Regions from separate parts of the Homo sapiens genome. Here region 1 is linked to region 2. The links come from fine-mapping of genetic effects on gene expression. A gene starts in region 2. The other region holds a variant in brackets. All regions are shown on one strand. Distances are from middle to middle.

Region 1 (5,374 bases), 53 kb after region 2:
TCTAACGTTGGACAATTTCCAGAGTTCTGAAGAACCAACTATCTTAACTCCTCAATGATTTTGACAGGGAAGACAAAAAAGGGACAGCAATTCTGGGGCTGGGGCTGGATCTCAACCAAAATATCTAATTTCAATTTAGTCCTGGCTTCTTAGCTGGAACAAAGAGAAAGTTTTTACATTTTGCAGAATATTTAGTTCGCCTCAAAGTCTATTGGGTTAAAATATATGTGTGTGTGAGTTTTTCCTTTCATAGTGGTTCAGAATGCCTGAGAGTTTGTCTAATCAAGACTCAAACATTTTGAGTGGATTTTTTTTCCCTCCACCATCCTACTTCTCTGAGATATCTTTTCTAGTTTTAAGAATCTCACAAGCTCCCTCAAGTGATGCTTAATTAGAGGAGCTTTCTATCCACTAAGTATTTTCTTAAATGTATAATTGATTGTGCAAGGAAGGAAGAGCTGCTGGAGTGGAAATCATACATCATTTCATTATTAATGGCAATGTCTAAGTAAAATGCAGACATTGTCATGCTAATGGATAGCTGTGTATGTTTAGCTTTAAATCAGAAGCTTTTTTCCCCTTTACTGTTCTGGGATCATTTTAGGAAGTTTAAGTAGCATTTAATATATTGATAAATACCTGCTAGCATGCTGGGCTAAGGTTGGAAAAAGGAGCCAAATGAAATCCTGACGAATGCAGGGGAATGGTGTGACAAAATGAATAATTTGGGATGCCATGTACATTATTACCTCCTTTTTACTACTTGTGAAGAAGCTGGATTTTTACCTGGATTTAATTTGGAAGACATGTGTATTTAGCACTTACTGTGTACTGCTTCCACTGAAAACATCCACAGATGTCCTCAGAGAACAACAGAACTGAAAAGTTGCTGAACGGCCCTCACCCTGTTTTTGGTGTGGAATTCATCAGCCAGAGTGAAAGAGTCTCTTGTGGATCCTGAAATGGCTGGCTTAGATCAGAGGCTTTCTTAGTTTGCAGTTCCCCAGAAATTAGACCTTCAGCAGGGATTTGGATGCAGGTAGTTTATATGGGCATGATCTTAGGAAGCAGGAAATGAGGGAGAGAGAAGAGGGAAAAAAGGCAAGGAAGAAAAAGTAAGGCAGTGATGTATTATCAGAGTCACTGCTGTGGCTGGTACATGGTCCCATTGGAATCTTCTAAGGGACAGAGTAAAATGTGCCTCCTAGAGCCAGGCTCCAGAAGTACAAGAGGCTAGAGCATTATCTCCTGGCACCTGTCCCCTCTTGGTTGAGGGCTGTCCCAGGGTGCTGGTGTGCAGGCTGGGCATCTGCTTCAGAGTTGGCATGCCGTGGAAGGAAGCCACGACATAGCAGGTTGTGGTCAGGGTCAGACATGTGGCTGAAGTCAGAGGTGGGACACAGGGATGTGAGGTAGGCACCAGATGCATCTGTTATAGAAGCTGAGTGTAAAGTTCCTATGGGGAGGGAAGCTTGATAGTCCATCCTTTTTTCTTTATTGAGTACCTACTGCGTACTTGGGTGTAGGAGGCATCTGGTGATTCTTCATTGAGTCCATCAAGAAGTGCACAAATTCATATACCACAAATGTTTGTTGAGTGCTCATTGTATGTCTGGAGACCATTCTGTCTTCTTCCCTAAGAGTGTTCATGCTGTTGGACCAGGTGTTATGATTTTGCTCTGGAGAATAAGGTATTTCCACATGGAGCATGTGGAAAATATAGTGCCTATCTCCTGAAAGGTCCAGGTGATGCAAAGATGAATGAGACATGATTGGAGGTTTTTCTTCTGTCTGAAATGCAGACAGTTCTGGGTTGGGCAGCTCTGTAAGATGCTGAACATGTGTCCTTCCAAGAAGCAAGGATCAGAAAGCAGACTTTGATGGGGGATGTGAGAGAAAAAGTTCAGACAGGCTTCTATGAATTTACTAAAAGTTTTGGAAAGGTTATACCCCCGTGGGAGGGAAATAGCAGTAATGGGGTATGTGGCAATGGGTACAAAAGGGTTGGGGCTGATGTGTGAAGGACCTTGAAGGGCATGAGAAGAGGTATGGGTTTTCTTTTGTAGGGAGTCTTTTTACACAAAGGGGAACATAAAATTCATGTGGATGAAAACTCAATGTCAAAACATGAATTCATCTTCCTCCTTATTATTGATGGATTTCTCTGTCCCTTCAGTTATAGGAACCGAGGAGTCATCCTTGCTGTTGCCCCTCCCCCATCTCTGTCAGCCATACTAGTTATCTCTCAGCTCTGTCCCCTTTGCGCCACCCCAACTCTGCCACCTGACTCCTGCCTTAACTCCAGATTGGTGTCTCTGCAATCTTTTGGTTTCTCTAGAGACCCTTCTCTCCTTATAGGAGCCAAAGTAAGCTTTTGAGAATTCGAAGCTGATCACGACATTCTGTAGCCTTTAACTCATCAGTGGCTCCTTATTGTTCTTAGGATAAAAGCCAACTTTCTTACTCATCTGCTGTTCCCATTGCTTCTGTCA[C/T]GGACATTCCTTCCTCTCTGAGAAGCTCAATTCATCCGTCAGATTCTAGCCCCTTTCCCTTCAGTTCTCAGAGACACCTTCACTCCCCAGCTGGGTCAGTTCCCAGCATAGGATGCTCTAAGCCCCATGCAGCCAGGAGCTGTGGTTGTTTGTTTACTATTCTATTCCTCCTGACACTCAGTACTCAATAATAAACACAGTGCCAGACACTCGGTACGCAGTAATATCTATTGAATGAGTTATTGGATGAAAAGCAATGTAGCTTGTGGCTGTGGAGGGTACGGATTCTGTCCAGTGTTGTGCTGTAGCTGGCTTATGTGGACTCATGAGAACCAACTGAGTGAATCTTTTCCCAGCTCTGTTCAGTGATATCACATTGGTAGCTTGAAGTCATTCATAGTGGGGATATTTACACCATAGAAATTGGCAAACACTACAGAGCCGGGCTCCCTCCACCCACTTTACTCAGAACACTGTTGATCCTGCCAGTCATGAATCTTATCCAATCTTAGGTTTCTCAGATTTACCCCTCCATACTATGTCTTTGTCACCAGTTTTCTGGAGGGCAGAGATCACATCTTATTAGTCTCTGAATCATTAATCTGTAGCAGAGTGTACAACTCAATAAGCACCTGTTTAAAAAAAGAAAGACGCTCACTAGTAGCTTGAGTCTCCAGTCCTGGCATGCTGTCTCTTCTACTTAATGTGCTCTTTGAGAAAAGGATTTTGAAATGATGCTTTGGCCTATTTGAGGTCTCTTCCCTTCCACCACTCCACTTAGGCCCATGGCTCTTACACATTCCGCTTATGTTACAGTAGAATGTTTTAATAAGTAGGATTTTTGTCATTGCACAAGTCGACACAATTATGGGAATAGCTAAAATTCACCAGTAGACCTAGTGGGTTCAATTCAACAAGATTATTGAGAGCCTGTTTTGTGGGAGATGCTATTGCTCATATGCTAGTGAAACAGACATTTTCTACCCTCGAGGGTCTGTGCACTGAGAGGCATAGTCATATGCAAACCAAGAGTAACTGATAAGATGGTTAAATGGTGGGACAGAGTGTCAGGGGCACCTGTATCGGAATTGATTAATTCTGTGTGGGGGTCATGGAAAGCTAGAGAGAAGGGATATTTGAGTTAGACTTGGAGGAATATACGGAGAGCTGTAGGGAACAGTTCCCAGAGGCAAGGAGATCAATTTGGGAAGTTACTGGGATAGTAATGGCCCAGAGATAATGAAGTCTTGGTCATTACTGGTGGCAGAGCTAGAAGGCAGTGGGCAGGGAACAAAGCTCAGATAGGCTATGGGGAGCTGAGGGAGAAGAGAATCAAGGTGAACTGTCTGGATCATTTTTTCCTCCAGTCCTTTTTGTGGTGGGAAGATGGGAGAATTGGAATGATCTAAATATGGCTTCCTAATGTTCATGTTATCTTGACTAATCTTGATAAGACTTTATGACAACTTTATCTCAAGCTCCTGCAGTTTCAATAGAAATTGGATTTTAGGATGCACAATTTGATTTAGCCAAACAGCTTTGGACTTCCATCCTACTTCATTGTCCCTGAGTGTCATGACTGTCATTGTCTGCATTCTAATTCTGTTTCTATTTGAATCATTCATTAAGTACCTAAAAATTATGCATATAGTAAATTCACAGGATACCATATGCAAATAGGAAGCACCCCTCACCCTGGTCCTAAATAAACATTGTGGATTTGTTAAGTAAATTTGGGAGTTTCAGATCTTTTTTTTAATGCAATGAATTGTAATGTCACACTTCCAATACGACAAGGATTCTTTTTTTTTTCTTCTTCTTTTAAATACAAGGGGAAAAAAAAATTCATTTTGAGTCAGAAAGTGGGTGTACGTAGGGGAGAAAAAAGGAGGGAGGGAGGAACTGTGTATAACTTCTCTTCTGCGTTTTGGCACAAAAAAGTTGCTCCCATCAGCTCAGCTTGGCTAAGAGAGGCCTCCAGATAAGAATTCTTGAGATCTCTGATTCTTCTCCACATGAAAATTTAAAAAACATTAAAAAAAGAAGAAATTACAAATGATCTGATCTTGAATGCCAAAAATCTAACCTTTGATGTTGGCTTTTCGGAAGTTAAATAATGAACCAAAGTTTCTTTTTTTCCTTTTTTCTTAAAGGACTACTTCATAAAGCCTATCTTACTTTATAATAAAAGGAGGAAAACATAAATAAAAGACACTCAAATATTTATACAGTTATTCAAAGGATTAAATGTATTTGGTAAGGTCTTAAGGTTGTTTAATATTTTCCCCTTCTTTTGAATCTTTGTTTTTAGCTCTGGTACATTGAAGATTTTCTTTTTCCTGTGGTTTTGTTTATAGAAATTAACAAATTCCCTTGTGATCCTTAAGAAGTTACTTTAGAAATATACAAATATACATGAATGAGAGAAAGGGGATATGAAATAGATGAGATAAGGAAATATTGTCATAATAACTACACTCTTTATATTACACTACTTAGTTAACACTACGTATAATTGAATAAATGACAACAACAGTGAGTAATAGACTACTTATTTGACTCAGAGAGAAAAATCTTGGGGACCTGCACTTTAGAAGAATATAATTTTACTTTTAATTTTTATGTTATATGAATACTCTGTGGCAATGTACATACTCCACATGTATTTTCTGCCTCGTGACTTACACTGGAAGAGAGAGGAATGATTAGTTTATATGTTAAAAATGCAGTGAATTTTTATTTGTCCTGAGTCCACTTCCTCCACTCCTACACACCAGCTAGGATTCTCTTGTGAGACAGAACACACTTTATAGTTTTGGTTTGTTTAATTATATGAAAATTTAAGTATTCAGACAATAGTTTTTAGTAGATTAAAACAACAA
Region 2 (5,374 bases):
AAGGAAATTAGTCTTATCAAAATATTTCTGCCCCCTTTTATTTTTCTTCCTTCTCTAGCCTGGCAGGTATGGAAATTGCCTCCCTCATATTTAGTTCCTGGAGAGACTGGCTCTGGGGTAGAAATTGAGCTGCTCAGGACTTCTTGCTTTGTGCCACTTTCTCATTTGGGTGAGTCAGCTTCAGGCTCTCAACAAACGCATCCTTTGCAGATGCTTCTAGACTCTGTTCAACCCCAGAAATCTATCTGCTGTGTGTCTCTTGCTGATCCTGGACTTGAGGGTGTCTATGCTTTTCTTTTCCCTGGCACTTTTGTCACCTTCCTTTGGCAGTGATCTGCTCCCTTATTTTGTGTCCCTCACCACTGGAGACACCCCACCAGACTCAGCTGGGAGTCCTGCAGTTGAGGACTGTTTACTGGAGAGTAAAATGGAGGTTCAGGCAGATAAAGAGAAGGAGGCCTAGGCCTTTTGCCAGGGCTATATGGGACCCATTGATAGGATGGGTGGGCTTTGCTTCCTCATCTCCTTACCTTCAAGGATCCTCTCTGAGCTGGAGAATATGGCCCAGGCAGGGGGAGGGATTGACTCTGGGGACCCCTTTGGACCTGGAGCATAAGGTTAAGTTTGGAGCTTTAGAAAGTTTTTAGCAGGCCAAGTTTCAATTGTGCATTTAAATACTATAGAGACTGAAAATGTTCACATACCTATCCCCAAAAACCTACAGCCCTTCAAGTCTCTCCACCATTATACTCTTCTTCGACATGAACGCTATGTTAGGAACCCCTGTGAATGCTATGGGGATCCCAAAAGATCAGACCAATCCCTTCAGGGAAGTCCTGGAAGAGATGGCATTAATTATGGTACCAGGGGAAAGTGCTCAGCACACAAGAAGTCTAGATTACATGTGTGAGAGCTGGGCAGGCCTCGTGCACAGGAGATAAAGCAGTGTTTGAGGACAGTGGCCATGCACTGCAGGCCAGGACCACACTCTTTCATCCAGTTTAGGAATCAGGAAGTGGCTCCACTGCTCTGCCAAGAGCACAAAGCATAACTCTTGCCTGTCTCTATTCAACATGGGCATGTGTACTTTTCCATCACTGACCCCATGAGCTTCCTAAATCAAAGGACCAAGGAAGGCCAGCAGAAAGGGGACCTGGATTTCTGGCAGATAATTTCCCCGAAGGAGTCCTTAGCAGATTTGGCTGCAGTCAGGGAGTTCCTTTGAGGGCAATGAAACAGAAGTTCACCATGTGCTTATTAGAGGTTACAACCTGCTAAAAAATGATGGGGTACATTACCCAGAAACTTCTAGCTATTTCCTTTGCCAGCCACAAAGATACATGCTGAAAAGCCTGAGGAGGGAGACAATTTCGTCCTTTTTTCTTTCCCTTTTTCCTTCCATCTCTCCCATTTCCATTCGTTCCTTCTCCTTCTCTCCTTTCTCTCTCCCTCCTTCCTTCCCATTTTCTCTTCCCCTTCTTCCTTTTTTGTCCTTTCTCCCCACCTTCCTTCTCTTCTCCCCCCACCCTTTTCATATGGCAGAGACAGAGTTAGGAAGGATTTGTTCAAGCCCTCCTTTTTAACAGGAAGAATAAAGGAGGATGAGAAAAACCCTACACCAAATAACCAGCTAATCAAGGACGGTTAACATTGCTGTTGCTTTGGTAGTTACTCTAAAAACAAACGAACCAACTACTTGGGGTGGGGAATGAGGGGTTGGCATTTAATTTGAGAAAATTTAAAAACGCATCCTGACACAGCCCCAGTGAGAGCATTCATTCCACCATTCACATATCTCGAGGACTGCCCGAGAGAGGTGAGCGTGTGAGTGAGAACAGTGCCCAACCCTGGCAGCCTCTAGGCTAGCGGCCGAGAGAGAAGCGTTTCAGAGGCCGGGGTGGGAGTAGAGCCTGGTACCCCACTTCCTGGGGACCCACAGCGCCTCATTTGCCGGGGCCCAGCGTCCATTCATCCCTCCCAGCGTGGAGGCCGTGCCCCTCCGAGAGTTACCAGCCCCGACCTCGCGCACCCATATTCCATCCCACCGCCCCCGCCTCAAAGCGAAGAGGTGGGCACCTGGGACGCGCGTCCTGCTTTTTCTGCCCGGGCTCTCCCGTCTCCTCCACTTTTGTCCCCGACGTCCCAGAACGGCGGAGCAGGACGCGGCATCAGCCCTGGGAGGGCGCAGCCTGCGAGCCTCCAGCGCGCTCAGGGCGCGGCGAGGATGCTAAAGGACTGCAATGGCCAGGATGCAGATCCCCAGCTCAAATTCCTGAGGAAGACACCCGCCTCCCTTTCCCTCTGTCCCCTCTCCGTCCTCGCTCGGACCCGCTCCTCCCCAGCCCAGACGTCAGTGCTCAGCGCTCCTTCGCTCGCCACTTTGCGAGGAACTTTGGCCGGCTCCCCTGCGCCACCGGGAGCGGGATGTTAATGAGAGAGCGTGGCCTGGCGCCGCCAGCGAGCCGGCTCCCGGGCCGCGATTGGCTGCGGTGGGCGGAAAGATGACGTTATGCAAATGAAGGGGCGGGGCCTCGATGCGCGGGCCCCGCCTCCTCCCTTTGGGGTTAGTGTGCCTGTGTTTAGCTCTGGGGAAAGTCAAACTGGATTCCATAGGGAAAGCCTGCAAATCACTTCTATTTTAGCAAGGAGAAAACAGAATCTCCATCCAGCAGGGTCCACCCCTCTCTCTTTCTCCCTCTCCTCTCTATCTCTCTTTCCCTCCCCCCCTTTCCTCTCTCCCTCTCTCCCCTTCCCCCCACCCTCTCTGGTGTATCTGTCTACGGCAACCAGCGTCCTCCTCATCTACACGCAAAGGAAAGAAACATCTTTGGTTGGGAGAGAAGGAGGAAAAAAAAAGAGAGAGAGAGGAAAAAACTTGCCTGGTTGTGGAAAATGACACTTGAAGTAGCAAAGCCGGCAGCGCGAGTTGAGTCTATTGTTTCTTAAATTGCCATCAGGGTTTTTTTTTTTTTTTTTTTTTTTTTTTTTTTTTTTTCTTCCTGCTTCTTCAAGTGAAGGGTACCTCTACAAAAGGAAACTCCAGCCCCTCCTGTCCTCCACCGGCCTGTGATCATTACAAAAAAAAAAAAAAAAAAGCAAAAAAAAAAAAAAAGCACCCAAACCAAAAATCAACCAACCAAACAACCCCCAACAGCCAAGCATACATCTCTAATTTTATTATTTTGGTCTTTTCGTTGGATTTTCCCTTTCTTCTTTTTTTCGGGTTATCGCTCAGTTTTGAGCAGAGGTTTACATTTTTTAAAAATTTGCTTTCCAGCCCGCCTTGATCTTCTAAGTGCGAGTTCATCGTCTGAGAAAAAAAAAAATCTCTGGTTGGCGTTTTTGTTTCTTTTCTTTTCTTTCTTTTCTTTCCTTTTTTTTTTTTTTTAATTTTTTTCAAGGGGGAGGAGATTTTCCACAAGAAAAGGTTGTTTTCATGTTTGGGATTCAGGAAAGCATCCAACGGAGTGGAAGCAGCATGAAGGAAGAGCCGCTGGGCAGCGGCATGAACGCGGTGCGGACGTGGATGCAGGGCGCCGGGGTGCTGGACGCCAACACGGCGGCGCAGAGGTGGGTACTGCGCGGGGACCGCGGCCGAGGTGAGCCGCGAGCGGGAGAGCCGGGAGGCGGAGGCGGCAGCGGCAGCGGCAGCTGCTGCCGCGGGGCCGGGCGGCGGGGTGAGTCCGCAGCCGCTGCGCTCCGCTCTCCGCCGGGGCTCCGCGCTCTCCAGCCGCTCTGCCTTCGTCGCCTGCGGCCGGAGGACCTGGAGCTGTCTGCGAGGAGCCCACGCTTTGCCAGCACTTTCCCCTGCCTCGTCTGTGACTGTTTTCATTTTGTTTTAACCCAGAAGAGGCGTCTCAACACAGCATGTTGGAGATCTGTGTTTTATGTTTTTATGTGATTGCTCTTTCTTTTCCGGCCGGCTCTCTTTTCTTCTTTCCCTTCGCTCTTCCTTTCCCTCTTTTCTTTTTTCTTTCTTTCTTTCTCTTCCTTCCTTCCTTTTTCTTTCTTTTTTCTTTTTCTTTCTTTTTTTCTTTCCTCCTTTTCTTTTTCCTTTTTCTTTCTCTTTCCTCTTCCTGCCTTTCTTTTTTCTTTCTTCCTTCTTTCCTTTCTCCCCCCTTTATTTTCTTCTCTTCTCCTTCCTCTTCCTTTCTTCCCCTCTTCCCTCCTTCCATTTCTTTCGTTCTTCGTTCTTTCCTGTCTCTCTTCCTGCCTTCTTTTCTTTCTTCTTTCTTTCATTTCCTTCTCTCATTTCTTTCCCCCACCTTCCCTTAATTTCTCCCTCACTCTTTTCCTTCCTCCCTTCCTCTCTCCATTTTCTTTCTCTTCTTTCTTCAGCTTCCCTCCTTTCTCCTCTTTCTCCTTTCCTTACCTCTCTGGCTTTCCTGTTTTTTCGTCCCATTTCTCCCCTGAGTCTTCTCTTATTTCTGCTATCTCGTTCTCCTTCCCTCCCTCTCTGTCTTTCAGTTTTTTCTTAGTCTACCGGTAGAATAGCAACTCCCAACTTTAATTCTGATATCTCCCAAAAGTCTTCTCCAGCCCCTGTCACCATGGCCCCTTCCAGCCCTTCTCTCACTCGCAGCTCCCTAGACACTAGACTGTGTGGCCTGGAGGCATTGCCCTTGGAGGTTGACCTGAGGGAACTTTCCTGGGCACACCCAAGGCTCTTTCCCAGGCTCCTGGTCCCAAGTGAGAAATGGCCTTTTTCCCCCCATTAAGCCACCAGCTGAGCTTGGGACAGTGGGAGATCTGGTGGCCCCAGGCCCTATCGGACTCAGAGTGCGGAAGGGGAAGAAGGAAGATGACTAATTACATCATCTCCAGCTTCCCTGGGCTGGGGACAAGTGTCCCCAACACTGTTCCCATCCCCACTGAGTATTAGGATGGGGGTGGGTGGTAGTGAGAGTGAATTGGGTAACTGGGCTGGAAGTGAAAGTGTGTGCGCGGGGCGCTCGTGTGTGTTCTTCTATGTGTGTGTGTGTGCCTGTGCGCGCTTGTGTTGGGCAGGTCCGGCTGTCAGTGGCCGCCTGGCGCCCCAGGCGCTCCAGCCTCCCATCGCCGGCCGGCGCACTGAGCCAGCAGCCCTGGCCTTTAGGATTTCTGGAATGAGTGTGAGGATTTCTGCGGAACAGCGAAACTTTGTTAGGACAGGTCTTTAAGAAAACACCCCTCTTCCCTTTTTCACAGCGACCACCCGCGACAGTTCTGAGCCCCGCCCTCGGACCCTTCTCCACATGCTTTTTGGTGGTGGGGGGATGTGGCTTCCCAAGGCCGGGCACTCGCAGTTGGCCAGAGCTTGAGGGGTTCCTGGAGGGTGGCTGCTGCGGCGAGACGCCGAGCATGTTTTCCATCCATTCCCACCTGCCCTGCTAGC

Direction of the effects. Positions count from the first base shown, and alleles are read on the strand shown. Sizes are in standard deviations (SD) of each study's normalised expression.
With allele T in place of C in region 1, the expression in fibroblasts of the gene that starts at base 2,999 in region 2 is lower (small effect, 0.08 SD a copy in GTEx).

Evidence for each region. PIP is the estimated chance that this variant, and not a neighbour inherited with it, causes the effect.
Region 1: its variant is fine-mapped to the expression of EBF1 in fibroblasts (GTEx, PIP above 0.99).

Annotation. Positions count from the first base shown.
Region 1 is chr5:159,044,368-159,049,741 of GRCh38, reverse strand. The region is part of intron 6 of EBF1 (EBF transcription factor 1); the gene reads left to right. Among named protein-coding and RNA genes, the nearest start is that of EBF1, 53 kb to the left of the region's middle. The variant C/T (reference allele first, on the strand shown) is at 2,493.
Region 2 is chr5:159,097,541-159,102,914 of GRCh38, reverse strand. It overlaps EBF1 (EBF transcription factor 1), which reads left to right and starts at 2,999. Exons shown (of 16, transcript NM_024007.5): 1 at 2,999-3,570. The coding sequence starts at 3,437. LINC02202 (long intergenic non-protein coding RNA 2202) reads right to left here and starts at 2,432. Exons shown (of 3, transcript NR_109890.1): 1 at 2,077-2,432. RefSeq lists enhancers at 1,464-2,090, 2,091-2,719, 4,469-5,362 and a silencer at 3,537-3,826.